Linked DNA regions of Homo sapiens: region 1 is linked to region 2. The links come from fine-mapping of genetic effects on gene expression. Tissue or cell type: whole blood. Region 2 holds a variant in brackets; the other region holds the start of a gene. All regions are shown on one strand. Distances are between the middles of the regions.

What was found. PIP is the estimated chance that this variant, and not a neighbour inherited with it, causes the effect.
Region 1: HK2 starts here. The variant in region 2 is fine-mapped to the expression of HK2 in whole blood (INTERVAL, PIP 0.95).

The regions. Positions count from the first base shown.
Region 1 is chr2:74,829,151-74,839,201 of GRCh38, reverse strand. HK2 (hexokinase 2) reads right to left here and starts at 5,075. Exons shown (of 18, transcript NM_000189.5): 1 at 4,559-5,075. The coding sequence starts at 4,621. HK2-DT (HK2 divergent transcript) reads left to right here and starts at 5,215. Exons shown (of 1, transcript NR_185897.1): 1 at 5,215-6,547. RefSeq lists silencers at 1,838-1,995, 3,934-4,183, 5,104-5,333, 5,514-5,583 and enhancers at 1,806-2,321, 3,634-3,703, 3,481-4,357.
Region 2 is chr2:74,857,935-74,867,985 of GRCh38, reverse strand. HK2 (hexokinase 2) reads right to left here. Exons shown (of 18, transcript NM_000189.5): 3 at 202-350. Among named protein-coding and RNA genes, the nearest start is that of HK2, 29 kb to the right of the region's middle. The variant T/C (reference allele first, on the strand shown) is at 5,544.

The DNA.
Region 1 (10,051 bases), 29 kb after region 2:
TGTCTCCCATATCACACTCAGAGGGCCTTGCACTCACTGTAGGTTCTTAAAAAAACATTAAAATTCTTGGCTTTCTTGACTCTTGGGGTCTCTGTTCAATCTTTTCGCTTCCAAGATATTCCTCTCAAGCCCAGCATTGAAGGTCACCCCTTGCTCATACAACAAGGAATCTACATGAGCTATGTCTATTACAGGATTCCAGTGCAAATGTCACCAGTCTATGCGTATTAAAACAATTTGGTCAATGGTCAGAGAAAGGAGTATATACTTCATTTTATCTCTATGGTTAACCCTGATTCTCCATTCTTAAATGACAAAATCCTGCATCTTGTATACTAACTTATCTCAATCAATAGAAAGAATCAGCCAGGCGCGGTGGCTCACTCCTGTAATCCCACCACTTTGGGAGGCGGAGTCAGGCAGATCACGAGGTCAGGAGATTGAGACCATCCTGGATAACACGGTGAAACCTCGTCTCTACTAAAAATACAAAAAAATACCCGGGCATGGTGGCAGGCGCCTGTAGTCCCAGCTACTCGGGAGGCTGAGGCAGGAGAATGGCGTGAACCCGGGAGGTGGAGTTTGCAGTGAGCTGAGATTGCGCCACTGCACTCCAGCCTGGGCGACAGAGCGAGACTCCGTCTCAAAAAAAAAAAAAAAAAAATAGAAAGAATCTTCCATCTCTCCATAGGCAGGACACACAGTCTTGATTGCTGAAGGACAGGAAACTCTCCTCCCTTTCTCTCTCCCTCCTCAGGACCGGCCTCAGGTCATGCTTTGGCCTCAGGTCATGCTTTGGATGAAGAGATAACTGCGAACTACCCCTCCAAGTGTCCACCCATATACCATCCCTTTAGCCTAAGACTAGCTGGCCCTGCCCAGCTCCTCCACTTCCTGCAGCCCTGGTTTAGCTTCTTTCTCCAGAAAGGTCTCCTCCTTTACTCTTGTACTCACTGAGCACCTCACCAGTGGCCAGGAACTGCAGCGACAAACCTAACAGCCAAGATTCTCCCTGCCCTGAGGAAGGAACCCAAACTGAAAACCATCAACTCTAACAGATGGTGGAATGAAACAAATGTCATGCAAGGTTCAAACACACTAATGTTGGCACACAGGAGGGGGAGAAGGAAGCAGAAAGAAAATTAAGACAGTAAACTGCATTTGAGCTGGAAGGGGTTAAGTGGAAAGAAGCCAAGCAGAGTTCAGGGCCACAAAAATGGCAAGGGCAGGCCTCGTGCGGTGGCTCACGCCTGTAATCCCAACACTACGGGAGGCTGAGGCAGGTGGATCACAAGGTAAGGAGATCGAGACCATCCTGGCCAACATGGTGAAACCCTGTCTCTACTAAAAATACAAAAAATAGCTGGGCATGGTGGCGCACGCCTGTAATCCCAACTACTCAGGAGGCTGAGGCAGGAGAATCGCTTGAACCTGGGAGGCAGAGGTTGCACTAAGCAGAGATAGCGCCACTGCACTCCAGCCTGGTGACAGAGTGAAACTGTGTCTCAAAAAAAAAAAAAAAAAAAAAAGACAAGGGCAAAAGGACCTAGTGTGAACAGGCAGGACAGAGGAATGAAAGGATGGAGAGGAAGATGAGGCTAAGCTGGGGGGTAGAAGCGGGAGGCAATTAAGAGCTGTAGAGAGCTCCTGAAATGATCCAGTCTGGCTCCAGAAAGAGTTTTAGGGACACCCTTAGCAGGCCTCCAAAGTAACCAAGAGACCAGTTGACAGAGTTAGAGAGTTGATGAAAATGAATCCAGGACTCTCAGCTGGAGTAGCCAGAGGGTACTGGTGCCACTGATCAAACCAACAGAAGAGCTAGTTCCATCTGTGGTCATGATGGGTGGGGGTGCTACCAGCAGCCAGGAGTGGGCAGAGGCCCGGGCCAGGAGCCCGCTCACATTCCCCAGAGACAGGCAAGTATGTGCTCAAGAGCATGGTGCTCTAAAGCCAAATGCATGGCTTCGATTCCCAGCTCGTACAGAAAAGCTGGAGACCTTGGGCAAGTTACCCCTGGGCCTCAGTTAAACAGGGATGCTAATAACAATCAGTCTTCACCTCATGGGGCTGATTTGAATGTTAATAAGCTGACATACCTAAGAGCTTAGAACAGTGCCAGGTACACAGTAGGTGCTCTGCAGTCGCTCCTGAGTTCCAATTGGCAAAAGTGAGGAAATAACCCTGATTCTCATCTCTAATGCCCCAAAACACTGGGCTTGTCCATCAGGAGACGACAAGTGACCTCGTTGGGCAGGTGAACCCAAGCCTTCCACGTCCTCAGACTACAACCCAGAATATGTAAGATTATCTTATCACAAGGGGATTTCAGAAGGGTCCAAATCAAAAGGTCTTTTCAAAAGACTCTAAAGTTATACTAAATTTTCATTCTTCTCTCTTAATTCTTCTTTCCAATGGCAGCTCAGAAAGATGGTTCCAAGATACTCTGAGTCTCTGCTTTCTATGTAACTGCCACTGGAATCAAACAGCTTCGCTCACCTAAGCTGGGAGTCAAATCCCAGGTTCTGACAATTACTGAGTTAAAGGCCTGATTCAATTCTGCCCCTATTGGTAGTTTAGAGGAAATACACCCAAGGGTCTTCAGGGACACTTCTCAAACTGACAGGTGGCTGCAAGGGTAGAGAAAACCTACAGGAATGACAGTTGCACACTGCAGCGCTTAATAATCGCAACTCCATAAAGTGGACAAGCCTACTGTTATTATTGCATTTCACAAAGAGAAACGGGCTGTCCAAAGAGGCTCAGGGTGCTATGGTTAATAAACCACAAGACAGAGATTACAACTCATTTCCAGATACCCTGGTTAATTCCCGTTCCACTCTGGGGGAAGAGAGATGACCCCCATTCCAAGATTGAGAGTGGTATAACTCCAACGGGGTTCCAACCCTGGTGCCCTCCTCTGGATTGAGGAAGAGTAAATTTATGCAAGGATTCAAATGTCCTGGGGTAATACCCAAAGGAGAACTCCCTGAGATTAATGACGCTCCACTGTGTATTTTAGGACTTGCCAAGAGATGATAGCCTTCCCCAAGAGTTCTTAGAAGTTGAGAAGTTACCAAGATCCTGCCAGCTCAAATCAAAGGCACGTTTTTAAGTAAACTGAATCAAGGTGCAGAGCCACATCCCAGGAATTAGAGAATAACAGCCATTTACAAACAGTAAAACCCAAGTAAATCAACCGCCTCTGCTCGCTCCTCCAGACTTGAGGCTGGGTAACTTCTGCTTTTCTTGGAGGTTCACGCGCCATCACTACATTAATATGCCTCCTATGCCCTCGGGACCGCCAGAATGGGAATATGAGCAGGTTGTCGCACAGAACGGTAATGGCAAGACATTTTCCCAAAAATGTGTTCCCATCAGATATTGAAATTCCAAGTATGTAACTGAGCAACGCTCCGTTGCCTCACAGCTCTTAAAACAACCTCCCTCCAGCTAATCCCCTCCCAACTTGTCCCCTACCTCAAATCGTAGCCCAGGCCCGGGCCAGGAGCCAATCCCCTAATCCCGGGCATTTCAGAAACTCAATTCTGAGCGCGCCCCTGGCCCTGCCCGTCCCCGGCCCCGGCCCCATCCCCACCCCCATACCCCGAGGCGGGGAATGAGAGCTTCCCGGCTTGGCCTGAGGCTCTTTCTTATGTAAATGACCCGGCCGCGGTGAGCGCTCAGCCATAGGGAGCTGCGGAGCCAGGTGGGAACAGACAGGTCGAGGCTTAAGGAAAAAAAAGCTCGTTTTCGGAAGGACATAAATCTCAAGAATCTCAAGTAATCCAGGAACGCGGCGCGTTGGCCTCTCCGAGTAACTTTTAGGGCAAACCAGAAAGTAACAACCAAAGTCCTCCCCTTACTCAGAGGCAGATCCTGAGGACACGAGGCTGGGCGGTCCCGAGGCTGATTTGGAGGGGCGGGGGTTAATGGGGGACGCCCCTCGCCGAGCCTCAGTTCCGGGCGCCACAGTTCCGGGGAGGGGGCGCGGCGGGCGGAGTTCCTCTGCCCCTTTCCTACTCCTTCCCGGGTCAGCTTCTCCTCGAGCCCACCCCCGCAGGGCCGCGGGGAAGGAGAAGGGAACCGCTCGTCTCCTACACGCGGTCCGCGAGCGCGGACGGCCCCCGGCGGCCCCACGCGGCAGCGGAGCAGCCTCCCGCAGCCACGATTCTCTCCACGTGCTCTCGCCGGAACTCGCGCTGCAGAAGGGGGCTCCCTCCCACGTGGGCGCAGCAATCCCTGACTACCTGCGGGGTGACCCGCCCCTCCAGTAACAGGGAAAAAGGGACTGGGGGAGAGAGCGTGAGCGCGTGCCGGAGCTCAGGGAGGGAGGGCGCCCGGCGGAGCGCGACCTCGGCTCCCCGCCCGCGCGCACTCGCCGGCTGTGCTTAGCGGACGTGGCTCCTGGCGCCCAGGAGTGTCCCGGCTGCCCAAACTTTTTCCGCTCCCAGGCCCGGAGTAGGGAGGAAGCGGGTCCCCGCAGGGTCGAGGAAGAGACTGATGGAGGCCAGACCACTTTGCCAGAGCCCAGCCTGCCGCCCCGCCCGCGCTGACTTACCTTCTGCACTTGGTCATGGTTGAGCTCCGTGAAGAAGTAGGCAAGCAGATGCGAGGCAATCATCCTGCCGCGGCCCGACGGCGCAGAGTTGGGAAACCGAGGCGGAGACGCGAGAGGGGAGGCGGGCGGCGCGGTCCGACTGCTTTGTGCTGGGGCTCGGCTGCCGGGCCGGGAGCTGGGAGTCCGGACGGCGCACAAAGAAGGCTACCGGCGAGGGTGCGCCCGGCTGGCGGAGGGCGCGGGTCTCCGGAGACGTGATTTTGGCGTCACAACTGCTAGAAGGCGCCTCAGTTCTCTCCTGGCGACGTGTCCGGTTGTCCCACGTCAAGGCGCTAACTTCGGCCACAGGATCACTGAGGCTCAACTTGAGAAGAATCTCAGCCCGGCTCCACTCGGGCAGTGGGACCTCTCCGATTCACAGGCGCGTGGCTCGGGCCCGCGGATTTTCTTAGCTGGGTGACACGATGTTGCCAGCGGCAGCCCGGGACTCCTGCGCCGGAGTTTCATGCAACAATGTGGCTTATTGAGGGGCTGCCGGCCCGCGGGCCTCCGGATCAGTGACGTGCGCACGCCCATTGGCTGCGCGGGGAGGGTGTGTGCGCCCACGGACCGCCCGCCGCCGTGGCGCAGCCAATCATCGCTCACGGCTCGCGGGCGCGGCCGCTCAGACACCGGAGCCGGCAGCCTGGGGAGGCGCGCCGGGGGCGGGGGGCGGGGGAGGGGCGGGGCGCCTGAGATGGGACGTGTGGTCCGTGGCTAAAGGCTGGGACGGAAAGGCGCATGAGCCACCGCCGCGTCAGGCTCGGCTATGGGTGGGGGGAGCGTGATCGCGGACCCGGGGTGTGGGGCGACTGGAAAAACGGGCCTCTGGACCAGCACACGCCCTGTGCGGAGAGACACTGTCTGGCATCTCGGGATCATGTGAGGGGCTCCCACTGCCCAGTCACACGTCTAAAGCATCCTAGTTCTTACCTATTGTAGCACGGCCGGAAAGTGAGCCGCCTTAGCTGCTGATTGTACTAGAGCAGGCAATACAAGAGTCGGCCCATCCTCAAAACCACTGATAGGATGTGAGTTTCACTAACCCCGTTTTACAGATGAGGAAATTGAGGCAAGGCCAGGGCTCACACCTGTAATCCCAGCACTTTGGGAGTCCAAGGTTGGAGGGTTGCTTGAGACCAGGAGTTCATGACCAGCCTGGGCGACATAGTGAGACCCCCATCTTCCCAAATAAAAATAAATAAATCAGCCGGACATGGTGGCATGTGCCTGTAGTCCCTGCTGCTCAGAAGGCTAAGGTGGAAGGATAGCTTGAGCCCAGGAGTTCGAGGCTGCAGTGAGCTATGATCATACCACTGTACTCCAGCCTAGGTGACAGAGGGAGACCCTGTCTCAAAAAGAAAAGAGACTTACACGAGGTCACATAGCTAATAAGTGGCAGATAGGGAAGAGAACCCTTGTCCCTCTACTTTAAGGCCCTATTCGCTTGCCCCATTATCCCATGCTGCCTCTCTAAGAGCCAGAGAAGTAGGAGGTAGAAAAAGAGCATCTCTGCAGCTCTGGGACTGATGATGTGAATGAACTGGGTAGATGGTAAGTGTGTAACTGGGTGATCTTGGACATGGGATGGGGTGGGTGAGGAGGCTTACCAATGCTGAGAGGAGTGGAAGCTCCAACCCCAGCTAATGCTAGACACCAGACTCCAAATTTAAACACACAGTGGAAACTGGCAAGAATGAAATACTGACTTCAATACAGATTTCAAGAGACATGACATTAGCACTGGTGGAGAATGGCAAGCCTAAGGTTGGAAAAGGTTCAGGGAAGGAAGATGAAGGTCTGCCATGTTCTACTGAGGAGGAGTTTTTCAAACAGTGGGGTGCTGTCTGCAATGTGTACAGCCTTAAAATTATTATATAAGTAATCAATACTCATTGTTGAAAAATAATATATGGATAAACAGGAAAAATAAACAAAAATCATAATCCATCTAGCCTCTCAGCAAAACTTCCTTTTTTTTTTTTTTAAAGCAGGGACTCGATATGTTGCCCAGGCTGGTCTTGAACTCCTGGGCTCAAGCAGTCCTCCCACTTCAGCGTCCCAAATAGCTGGGATTACAGATGTGCTCAGCAAAACTTCTTGAGAACTATGTACCCTTCTAAATGCACGTCCTCAACCCTCCTTCCCTATACTCCACACAGAATTGAGCTCAAACTGCTTTTGTCATAGTCATCATAATGACCTACATGTTGCCAAATCTTGCATTCTCTTCTCTTCCCTGCCCTTGTCTTACTCCTTCTCTCAGGGATGTTGAGGACAGTTAATCACATCCTCCATCTGGACACACCTTCCTCTCTCAGTAAGAGCACCAGTGCTCCACTCTGAGGGTTTCTGGCTAACCTCACTCCCCAGGCTCCTGAGTCCCTGTTTGCTCTATTGGTAAATGCTGGGGTATTCGGGGCTGCCCTCCACCCTCTTCTCTGAACTAGTTACAGTTTCAAACTCCCTGAGGAGAAACTAACTTCCTAGCCCCATGACTGTTATATCATATGCATGCTGATGACTCACCATAGTAAATCTACAGCGAGGTCCTCTCCTGGAGTTGCAGGCTTATTTCTCCAGCTTGCCATTTGTCATCTCCACTGAAGTGACTAGCATATCACACTTAACATGTCCAAAGCTGAACTCAACTTTTTTTCCCAAATCTTTTTCTTTCCCAGTTGTCTCAGCAAATGGCATCGCCATCCACCCTAACTCGTCTTCGATTCCTTCTTGCCACTCACCCTCACAGCCAGTCAATCCATCAGCAAGCAGTTAATTCCACCTATAAAACAGACCGTGCATCTGACCACTTATCTCCATGCCCTTAGACACCTCCTGAGATCTTCCCACAGAATACTGCTTGGCATTCACACTAGCATGCTTTCCTCAAAAATACAAACTCTTTCTCACCCAAGGGTCTTTGCTCTTCCTTTTCCTTCTATCTAGAATATTCTTCTCCAGGCCTGTCTCCAACTCATTCTTCCTCCTCATTGACGTTCCACTCAGATACCTCCTCATGATGCAGGGCAGGCAGGCCCCAAAATTTGGACTTAGCCTGGGAAGATTTTTGGCTTCACCCAGTAAAGAATTCAAGGGATGCCGGGCGCGGTGGCTCACACCTGTAATCCCAGCACTTTGGGAGGCTGAGGTGGACGGATCACGAGGTCAGGAGATCGAGACCATCCTAGCTAACACGGTGAAACCCCATCTCTACTAAAAAAAAAAAAAATACAAAAAATTAGGCGTGGTGGCGGGCTCCTGTAGTCCCAGCTACTCGGGAGGCTGAGGCAGGAGAATGGCGTGAACCCGGGAGGCGGAGCTTGCAGTGAGCCGAGATCGCGCCACTGCACTCCAGCCTGGGCAACAGAAAGAGACTCCATTTCAAAAAAAAAAAAAAATTCAAGGGCAAGCAGGTGGCATTAGACAGCAGCTTATATTGAAGTGGCAGTGTACATCAGGAGCAGAGGCACTGGTCTTTGCAGAGCAGGGCTACCCCATAAGGCCGTGTGCCCAGAGTAGCAGCTCAGAGGCAGCTCTGCACTCATATTTCTACCCACTTTTAGTTAACATGCAAATTAAGGGGCAGGTTATACAGAAATTTCTAGAAAAAGGTTGGTAACGGGTTGTTGAGTCATTGCCATGGAAAGGGGCAGTGACTTCTAGGTGTTAAATCTGGAACTCTAATCTAGAGTCTGGTCCCGAGTCTTAGCCCCCACCTCCAGAGTCAAGTCCCCACCTTCTACCTCATCAGGCTTTCCTTGACCAGTTTATCTCAAATAGTTCCCCAAGTCACTATCACTTGGCCCTAGTTGATTTCCTATTTATTTTCGCTATGTTCTTCCTCTCCTCAATAGATGATAAGCTAAAAGACAGCAGGGTCTGTGTCTGTCATTCCTTCAAGTTTGCAGTGCCTAAAATGGTGCCTGACGCATGGCAGACATGCAATAAACATTTATTGAATGAATTCATAGAAGAATCTTAGAGATGACTACTGTTCACATGTTGTGTAACAATACACACACACATAGAGTTTATAGTTTTATATATTATTTCCCAAATCTTTTCCCATTTCTCTGTCTACCCTAGATCATATGCCCAGTTATCTCTCACCTGACTGGAACAGCCTCATAACTGGGCTTCCCTCTTCAGATATAGACACCATAAATATATAGACTTAGATATTTAACAAAGATTCTTTGTTTGTTTGTTGTTTGTTTTTTGTTTTTTTTAGATAGGGTCTTGCTCTATCGCCCAGGCTGGGGTGCAGTGGCACAATCTCGGCTCACTGCCACCTCCGCCTCCTGGGTTCAAGCGATTCTCCTGCCTCAGCCTCCCAAATAGCTGAAATTATAGGCACTCACCACCATGTCCAGCTAATTTTTATATTTTTAGTAGAGACAGGGTTTTGACATGTTGGCCAGGCTGGTCTCAAACTCCTAACCTCAAGTGATCGCCCATCTCAGCTTCCCAAAGTGCTGGGATTATAGACATGAGGCACCACACCTGGCCCCAAGATTCTCAAAGCAGGAAATTATACAATCGCGTTTGCTTTTTTAGGGCCATAACTGCCCTCCATGTGGATGGGGAGGGAAAGAGGTCAGAGACCAAAGGCAGAAAGAGGCAGAAGCTATAAGGTAAGACTAGGACCTAAGCCAAGATGAGAGTGGGGCAGGGAGGAAGGTTATGGGTTTAGGTATTGTGAAGTCAGAGGTGGAACTGATGGATTTGGCTGGGGTGGGTGAAGGAAAATGAAGAGGAGGATGCCTGCTGCCTAGAATCGGATGGAAATTCAATAGCCTGGTGCTACAAAATGTATTGTCTCCAGGCAGGTAGAACCAAAGCCAGTGGGGTTGGGTCAGCTATGATACTTTCTTCACACACTAGTTTTAATGCCTCTTCTCCACTCCCCTCTGTGGTCCCATTTCATGTGAACCGGATAATAATCATAAGGAACTTTAAGTACATGTTATCTCTTACAAAGTTCCCAGTAATCCTGGGAGGTGGTTGGAATCAGTATTGTTATAGGCCAGGCACAGTGGCTCATGCCTGTAATCCCAGCACTTTGAGAGGCCGAGGTGGGCGGATCATGAGATCAGGAGATCGAGACCATCCTGGCTAACACGGTGAAACCCCATCTCTACTAAAAATACAGAAAAAATAGCCGGGTATGGTGGTGGGCGCCTGTAGTCACAGCTACTCAGGAGGCTGAGGCCGGAGAATGGCGTGAACCCGGGAGGCGGAGCTTGCAGTGAGCAGAGATCATGCCACTGCACTTCAGCCTAGGGGACAGAGCGAGACAGGTCTCAAAAAAAAAAAATTGTTATTAACCCCAATTGATACACAACAAACGGAGGGGAGGCTACCCACATAAGGCTGACTTGTTTCTGTGGTTCTTCTGCCTCTGAACTCCATTCCTCAAGTTTATTATTTATTGAATCTCAGATCTCTCTT
Region 2 (10,051 bases):
TACTGAGTACATGTTGGGTATAAAATACAACCAGAACAGCCTGAGCTCCGGCTGAGAGGGAGCCCTTACAGCTGTGCTGGCATCCATGAGTGTCTTGGGTGACTGCCTATCCACACGCTGGGAGCGGCTGGAGAAAGTACAGAAAGAACATGCCAAGGAAGTTTTTTGTCACCAGGGGCTGCCCTGAGAGAAGGGTCATACCTGGGTGCCACTGCCTCGCATGATGTCCTCAGGGATGGCATAGATCTGATTCTCCATCTCCACCTTCTGGAGCCCATTGTCCGTTACTTTCACCCAAAGCACACGGAAGTTGGTCCCTCCAAGATCCAGAGCCAGGAACTCTCCGTGTTCTGCAGAGAAAGGAAGGGCCACTATTAATTTTGGGCAAAATTCTTCCAGGAACCAACCGAGACTTAAAACTCCAAGTCCCTCCAGGAATATCTGTGGGTAAGGGGCGGCCAGTGGGATTCACTCCTCTACAGACATTACATATAGTCTAATTTCATGCTATACACCTTTACATTATTATTTTTTTAATTCTCAGAGCTTTATTAAAACTGGAAACTCACAGGGCTGTTTTTTTTTTAATCCCTCACTCCCTTCCCATCCTTTCCTCTGAGTCTCCAAAGTCAATTGTATTATTCTTATGCTTTTGCATCCTCATAGCTTAGTTCCCAATTATGAGTGAGAACATATGATGTTTGGTTTTCCATTCCAGAGTTACTTCACTTAGAATAATGGTCTCCAATCCCATCCAGGTTGCTACGAATGCCATTAATTTGTTCCTTTTTATGGCTAAGTAGTATTCTGTCGCATATACATTACTTTTATAATTCAATCAACAATATAAGACAGTTTCGCATCCAACGATGTGCTCACCCCCTCCTGAGAGCCGACTACCTCCTCAGTGCTTTCAGCAAGCCCCATGCCAGGGGTGCATGCCTCCATCCTGTTCCTCATACCCCCAGAACACCAAATTGCAAGCACGGTATTAAATTTACTTTCTAATGTTTGCATATTATGTTTGCATATTGCAATTGCAGTACTAAATTTACTTTCTAATGTTTGCATATTATGAGGGCCATGTCCTGCAGCAAGACCAGAGGGGTCATGTGATGGAGTGGAATGAGGACCAACACATTGAGGCCTGGTGAATAAGGCAAGCAGGTGCCCCCTCAAAGGATCTCAGGCTTATCAGAATGCAAGAGAATGCTGACCCCAGAGCATGTATGTACGACAAGAGTCAGGCCACTGAAGCAACAGAAAAGCTGTGGGGGAGCAGGAAAGAGGATGAGTGAGACTCCAGAAAGGAGCCACAGACACAGATGGGTGAAGACTGTCATGTGTCACTGGGAAGGTGCAGTTCCTACCCTCCAGGAAACAGCAGTGTAGACAGGAAACATCCAGATCCTGGGTGATAATACCACCGACTATGGGGAAGGGCCCCATTGTGTGGCACAGAATGAAAGTGCTGAAGAGGCGCGGAACCTGCAGCAGGGCAGGGGCTGGCGGAGCAGGCAAGGCGCATCCGCAGGTGACTGCCCCAACTGCGAGCAGCACCGCCAGTCTTCTGCTGCCCTGCCACAACCTTCTCAAAGGATACAAGGATACAAGGCAATTTCCTGGGGGGTTCACTTATTGGCATGTTTGTCAACACTCAACCCCTTTCCTGGTGGGAGAACAGCACTGAAGTGAAGCGGAATGGGTCAGAGGTCAGGGAGATGCTCTGACTCAATAACCCAAGAATGTTTGTTTTACACCCAGGTGCACTCAGCACCTCCAGCACTTAGGCCCTGAGAAAAGTCACATCTGACCAGCTCCCTGAGAACACCACCCACAGTCCCTAGGGTCCCAAGAGGGAAAACGGTAGACATCATCCACCAGAGACCACACAACCAGAAGTGTGTCAGGCGATGTGACACACGGAGACTGGCTCTGGAGCCCACATCACCTGCTCCAGAACCCCGGCCACTATTTAGCAGAGGCAAGTTCCTGAGCCTCTGAGCCTCAGCTGCTTCATCTCTAAAATGGGAACATTGCATCTCATTGGGTTGCTGTGAGGGGAAAAATTAGACACACAAGTGTGGTGCAGGACCAAGAACTCAGGACACACTCAGTAAGTACTAGGTACTCTCTCTCCGGGCTCTAGGCAGACCCTGTCCCACAGCCTCACTTGACTCTTCCAGGCCAACGAAAGCAGAAGGGATTGCAGAAACCTGTCCAAGAAAAGTCACTGGAATTGGCTCCAGTGACGGCAGCATTCCTCCTTAGGGGCACTAATTTTCCATTTCCTGCCCAGTGACTAGAGGTGGCCCCACCACTAGCTACAGCTGCGGGCTAGCTACAGCAACATCGCCCTCATCTGGGGTTAGCCTGCCTGCCTCATGGCCATGGGTGGCTTTTCCAGACACTCCAGCTCTGAGCCTTCCCTGGTAGTGGGAACTCAGCCAAATTCTAGGAAACACAACGTGGTGGCTGTCATGAGGGATGAAAGGGATATCAAAGATGAAATGCCTCATCAGCACTCTCAAGTCCAGGATACACGCGATCCGCTGAATCAGTGACCACAGGGGACCGAGGTGGCGAGGCTGCCCCTGGTGGGTCATCATCCGAGGCCAGCCCAGCTGGACTCAGAGGCCACAGCTCCACCAAGAACGGGTGGTGTGCAGGATTTTCTGATGGACTGAAGGGAAAACACAAATAATAAAGTATTGCTGATGAACCTGTTCCCAGGAAGGAGGTCCTCTCTTGCTTTGCTTACAGGACTCCTCTGGAACACACATTCCCTGACACCCCTCCTCCCTGCAGCCCTCCTCCACACACATAGGAAGCCACAACCACCATAGCCAATGACTGCATTCCTTCCAAGTCCGGAATCTGAGGCAGGCCTAGCACTGTGACTCGGCAATCCTGAGACGGGCCCTCTCGTAACGCCCACGCATGGTTACGTGCCCATGCCAGAGCAGTGGTTAGGCACTGGACCTTAGACAGGTAGGCAGGCCTCATTTTGAATTCCAGCTCAGCAGCTTCACTACCTGTGTGGTGTGGGCACATCACAGGGCTCTCTGAGCATGTCACCTCACCTGTAGAACAGGATTCATAATGCTGACATCTCCCAGCGGTTGTGATGCTTACGTGAAACATGGACTATGTTGTATGTGAACATATAGAAACACACAGGCTGGGTGTGGTGGCTCATGCTTGTATTCCCAGCACTTTGGGAGGCCAAGGCGGGCAGATTACTTGAGGTCTGGAGTTTGAGACCAGCCTGGTCAACATGGTGAAACCCTGTCTCTACTAATAATACAAAAATTTGCCGGGCATGGTGGCGTAGCCCTGTAATCCCAGTTACTTGGGAGGCTGAGGCAAGAGAATCACTAGAACCCAGGAAGTGGAGGTTGCAGTGAACTGAGATCTCGCCACTGTACCCCAGCCTGGGCAATAGAGCCAGACTCTGTCTCAAAAAAAAAACAAACAAATGACAACAACAACAAAGAAGAAACACAGTAAATTATTCCTCCGTTAATAGATCCTATCAAGGTACTTGTTCCCTTTCTCCCTGTCAAGGCCATGGAGGTTTGTGGCATGCTCTGGTGTCCAGTAAGGCAGGACAGAGGTTTGGTATAACTATAAGTTGGCATTAATTTGTGGGTGCCAAAAAATGGCATGTCCAGAGTAGCTACAACATAGGGCTCACGTGACATGGCTATAAACGCACAGCAAATACCATTGCCAAGGACTTTCTTTCGTTCTTAAGAAGGTCAGATCTGTTTCCAAAAGGGCTCTAGTGGCTCTAGTGGCACTGTGGAGGGCTGGGATAGCACAAGGAAGCAGCTCAAGGGCTGCTGCCACAGTTGAGCTGAGCAGCAGTGAGGGCATGAGCTCCAGGGCCATGTAGGGTGGCCAACCATCCCAGTTTGCCCAGGATGGAGGGGTTTCCTATGACATGGGACTTTCAATGCCAAAACTGGGAGAGGCTCAGGCAAATCAGAACACTGGACTGTATTTGATCCAACCTTAGAGCCTCTGGCTCTTCCTTGTCACTCAATGCCTGAGGCATGCAGCCGTAAACTTGGAGGTGGGTCAAAGTCACAAACGCATACTTTCACATTCAGTTCCTGAACCAGCCCTATATTTATAACTTAATGCCCCTAAAGGGACCTGCCCTTTCTGCCCTACAATATCATTTCCAGTGGCCCCAGGTAACTGCACTGAACATTCCAATCATCCTCTATGGGGTGACTCTGGGTTGAGGGGATCTTGTTTTTTTCCTTTAGTTTTCAAGCACCTGCTAGCACACAACAGTGGACTGCTCTGAGAATGTATGGCATATACTCCAAATGAAACGAGGACCGAAAAGATACATCTCCAAGTCCTAAGCAGGTAATGTAGCAAGACACAGGTCTCAAGGCACGTATTTTCCATGTACCCGGAATCGCCATGATCACTACCACACCTGGCAGCCTCTTTTTAAACCCCAGGATTCCAATTACTCCATTACAATGCAATGCCGGCCACCATTCAAGAGCTCAGCCATACAGAAGTATTCAATACTCCGTGTCATTAAAGGCACTGAATCACAGTTAACGCTGGTGTCTGGTACAGACTAGGAATGGAGTGATCTGATCTTCTACATCATTTGTTTTCAAACCATTTTAAGCAACAGAATGCTTATTTCCAAATAAAATTGGTGGGCCAAATGCCACAACGTAAAATAGAGAAAAACAGAGCTGCTCCAACTGAAGGGAGGGGTGTGGAACACGTAAAACACATGACTGGCACCCTAAAGCTCCTAGGACACCTCTTGGAATGCACCACTCTGGTGCTCTTTTTACCCAGGAAGTGTTTCTTAAGCTCAAAATACGTGCCAGTCACAGAGAGGTGTAATTAGCCCCACAGATGTGAAACCACTCTTCAAAGGGTTAAAACATGATTATGTTTCAATATTGTGTAAGCTCTGAGCATGTTCAGCTTTTTAGGCAGGCAGACCTGGGTTCAAATCCCACTCTAACATGCATTAGCCATGTGGCTTTGGGCAATTTATTAGAAATCTGACACTCAGATTTCATCATCTGTTTTAAAAGGGTAACGATAACCTCCTTCTAGTCAGCACCTCCCTCCACAACCCAGAACAAGAACACAGGAAAACACACACATATACACGCACACATACACACACGCACCTTGTCAAGATTCAGTGCAAGGAAGTGTAAGGCGTTTGGCACAACGCCTGACAATGTAAGTGCCATCTGCTGTACTGAGGCTATCTATCAGTACAATCTTCAATTTATATCGCCTGGACTACGTAAGTACCCCAATTAACTTGCTGTGTGCTAGCTCTGGATGTATGTCTCCGCTGTACAGTTGTTAATATAATGCAGAGCAACCAAGATAAGGGCTTCCTTCAGGTTTAACCAGCTTCCATGCAACGTATCACCAGCCCGGTCTCCCTTTATCACATCATGTGCTTGCATTATATGGCCCGATATCTCTAATTGTTTTGTCTACATGGGCCTTATCTCCCCAGCACAACTTTCACTCTT[T/C]AAAGGGCACGAGGCAGCTTAGCACACTGCTGCTGCACAGAGGACCAAGCCTCGGAGAGGACTGTTGAATGAGCTGAACAGCTAGGCCTAGGTTAGTAAGAGAAGAATCCACACATTGTGCTAGCAGCACAGCACCAATGTGCCACTGGTGGTGTGCTTAAAAGCCCAGGCATTAGCAATTTGGCTGGCCAAGTTCCAATCCCAATGCTGCCACTTGCTCACTGTGACTTTGGGCAAGTTGCCTAATTGCTCCAAATCTATTGCCTTTTTCTGTAAAGTGAAGTTCAGCGTACCTACCACTGGATGACTGTAAGAAATGATGAGATAGCTCAAACACAGCGTTCAGCACAGTACCTGGCACTAACGATGTCTACAATTTTTATCATCATCATCATCACCGTCACCATCAGCATCATGGTTCCCTGCTCTCTAGAGGGTTTAAGTCTGGCTAGAGGATGGAGGTATACTTACCTGTGAACATAATTCACAATTCCGAGGTGAAGAAGAGTCAAATGATCGATCTGACACTGCCTTACCCTCACTCTGTCTCATAAGGCATAGTTATAACCAAACGATCTTGCCAAGACAAGGGTGATAAAGGCACCACAGTTACTTCATTTCTAAGTTAGAACATGCGGCTGGCACATTTTCAGTTGGGTTGTACTTGAGCTTCTTATTGGAATGATACAAAGCCAACTCGTATTTAGGATCCATTTAAAAAGATAATCATCTGATTTTCCCTAGAAACTTTGGTTCAGCAGTACAAGCCAATGTAAACTGTGAATCTTATGGCCGTGGAGTCAGGACTATCTATGCTTACATCCCAACTGTCACCATCTGCCCACAGGTGACCTTGGCAGCCATCAATCCTTTTTTAGCCTTGGTTGCCTCATTTTTAAAGTGAGAATGACTCTCTTGTAAAGTTTTTGTGGAGAGTAAAACAGATTTATGTAAATGGCCTAGTACAGACACCATGGGTGCTCATTAAATGCTATCAATTCTTCCTGCATTCCCTTTTTTTTTTTTTCGGAGTCTCACTCTGTCGCCCAGGCTGGAGTGCAGCAGCATGATCTCAGCTCACTGCAACCTCTGCCTCCCAGATTCAAGCGATTCTCGTGTCTCAGCCCCCCAGTAGCTGGGATTACAGGTCCATGCCACCACAACCGGCTAATTTTTTATATTTTTAGTAGAGATGGGGTTTCAACATGTTGGCCAGGCTGGTCCTGACCTCAAGTGATCCACCCACCTTGGCCTCCCAAAGTGTTAGGATTACAGGCGTAAGCCACCGTGCCCGACCCCTGCATTCCCTTTTAAAATGGAACTGTCCTCTGAAAGCCAGGCCCCTATGTGTGGCCCCTATGTGTGTGGTGGGGCCCCTGACAGAACTGCGTTAGGGCTGGTACCACAGTCACACGCAGGGTTGTGGCACAGATTAGGGCTGCCTACAGAGAGGTCAAGATGGTGTGTTTCCTAGCAAACGCAAATGAATGCTTTCTTTAATTAACTCTCCACTGAAAAAAAGAAACAAGGACATACAGACAACAAATGCTATTGAGGATATGGAGCAGGCAGAGCTCTCATACATTATTAGTGGGAGTATAAATGGTTCAACAATTTGGGGGAAATGTCTGGCAGTTTCTAAAAATTAAACATATACCAAATTCTATGAATGACCCAGTAATTCCACTCCTAGTTGTTTATACAAGGAACTAAAAACGTGTCCACAAAAGGGCTTGTGCAATAATGTTCATAGCAGCTTTACTCAAATAGCCAAAAACTGGAAACTGCCCGGGTGTCCATCAATATTCATATCAGATTCTAATCATACCATGGAATCAGCAGCCAAAAGGAACGAGACACTGATAGACACAACACAGATAAATCCCACATTATGACAAATAAAAAAAGACTTGCATAAAAAACAAATACTGTGTGAGTCGATTTATATGTGAAGTTCTGGAACAGGCAAAACTCACATATGTGGAAAATAGTAGAATGTGATTGCCTCTGGGGGGATCAGGTACAGGGATTGACTGGGAAGGGGCTCAAGGTAACTTTCTGGGGTGATGGTAATGTTCTGTATCTTGATGGAGGTTTTTTTTAGTTGTTTAAATTTATGAGGTGCAAACATAATTTTGTTACATGGATATACTGCACAATGGTGAAGTGAGGGCTTTTAGTGTATCCAACACCCACTACATCCGTTAAGTAATTTCTCATCATCCACACCACCCCCCACCCTCCTACCCTCATGCCCCCCACCCTCCTACCCTCACCCTTCCAAGTCTCCATGGTCTATCATTCCACTTTCTATGTCCATGTGGACACACTGTTTAGCTCCCACTTATAAGTGAAAACGTGCGGTATTTGTCTGTTTTGGAGCTGTTTCACTTAAAATAACAGCCTCCAGTTCCATCCATGATGCTGCAAAATACATTATTTCATTCTATTTTAAGACTGAACAGTATTCTATTATGTATATATACCACAGTTTCTTTATCCAATCATCTGTCCATTGATGGGCATCGACTCCACATCTTTGCTATTGTGAATGGTGCTGTGATAAACATACAAGTGCAGGCATCTTTTTGGTATGATTTCTTTTCCTTTGGGTAGATACTCAATAGTGAGATTGCTGGATGGAATGGCAGTTCTATTTTTAGTTCTTTGAGAAATCTCCATACTGTTTTCCATAGAGGATGTACTTATTTACATTCCCACCAACAGTGTATAAGCATTCCCTTTTCTGATGGAGGTTGTATTAAACAGGTGTATTTGTCAATTCATCAGATAATACTCTTTTTTTTTGAGATGGAGTCTCGCTCTGTGGCCCAGGCTGGAATGCTCTGCCTCCCGGGTTCACACCATTCTTCCTGCTTCAGCCGCCTGCCACCACGCCTGGCTAATTTTTTGTATTTTTAGTAGAGACAGGGTTTCACCGTGTTAGCCAGGATGATCTCGATCTCCTGACCTTGTGATCTGCCCGCCTCAGCCTCCCAAAGTGCTGGGATTGCAGGCATGAGACACCATGCCCGGCCTTCTATTTATTTTTTTATCAGATAATACTCTTAAGATTTATTTCACTTCATCTAGATCTTACATCACAAGAAAATACAGCAAATATTGAACTCTAGTTACTATGTAAGTATACGTCTGAACCCTAAAACTTCAGCATACATAGTAACTAGAGTTCAGTATTAGTATTTACTATACTTTCTCAGCAATTTATGTTTTGTAATGCATCAATTATAACAAGCTGGACTGATGGATAGAAGGATTGGGGGGTTGATAAAGCAAACCAAGTAAAATATAGATGACCACTATAGAATTCTTTCAACTTCTTAAAACTGTTTGGGAAAGAAGCAAAACGACAAATAGAGACCATTTTTAATGTATTCTGGCTGACACCAAATTCAGTCATTGAGTAAGACATTCCTGGACCGTTTATGTCTATTGCACTTTTAATTATGCCAACTGTGTTTCTTCACACTGTGTAGGCCACACAACCTATGAAGCACAGGTACTTCACGATTTACCTTGAACATTTCACCCCTACGGGGTTCAGTGGCTACTGACATTCCCTGCCTTCTCACACAAGAGCCCATAAGCCGTGATGGGGAGGCCTCCACCACAAATAAATGGCCTGAAACTTTCTGGTTTCTCCACATTTTCTAATAGGACTTTGATTACAATTAGATAATTGGAGCTGGTATAAGAGCTGGGGCCTGGTCTTCACTCCAAAATGCAGGGCCCCTGGTGATGGGGATGAACCCTCACACCTGCTCCCTTGATGCCAATCTTCCAAAATTAAAACCTGGGAGTCTTACACACCTTTTCTTAGTAAATTTGGCAATGAGAGTGCCTTTTGCAGTGGTGGTTTGTGGCTGCAGGAGTGTTTGTAACACATGTGAGAAAGTCACATATCTGATTCTCCCTTAATTCTCAGAAAACCGATCCCCCTGAAGTTTCCCCTTTTCACAAATGAGGAAATAGAGGATCACATCATAAATCGCTCTGAAGCACACAGCTTGAATTCAAACCCATTTGAACCTATAATTCTGATTCTCACCTCTCACCCCACACTGTCCTGAAACTACATATTTCGTGCCAGCAAGAAAGGAAATGCTCATCTAGAATCAAACTGGGCCAAGGATCATTTAAGGCAGTGGCTTTCAAACTGCAAAGTGAAAAACATTTAGCAGGTTCTGACTAGCAACTTTCTTAAAGAATAGAAGACAAACCCAACTTCATCATGTTTAAGAATAAATTCTGGTCCCCAAATTTATTTCCTTTCATATAAATATTTATATGCATGTGTTTCTTGCTGTGAAGATATAGCCCAGAAAAGTTAGAAAGCTATGGATTTAAAAATTGGCTCCCTCTAGATCTGGGGTTTGGTTTCTCAGGTTTGAAAAGAATACTAGCCATGAACGGGCTGAGAAACGAATGTTCTGAGAAAGGTGGCACTGAACAGGTGCCCCTGGAGAAAAGGCCTCGAGCCTTCTGTG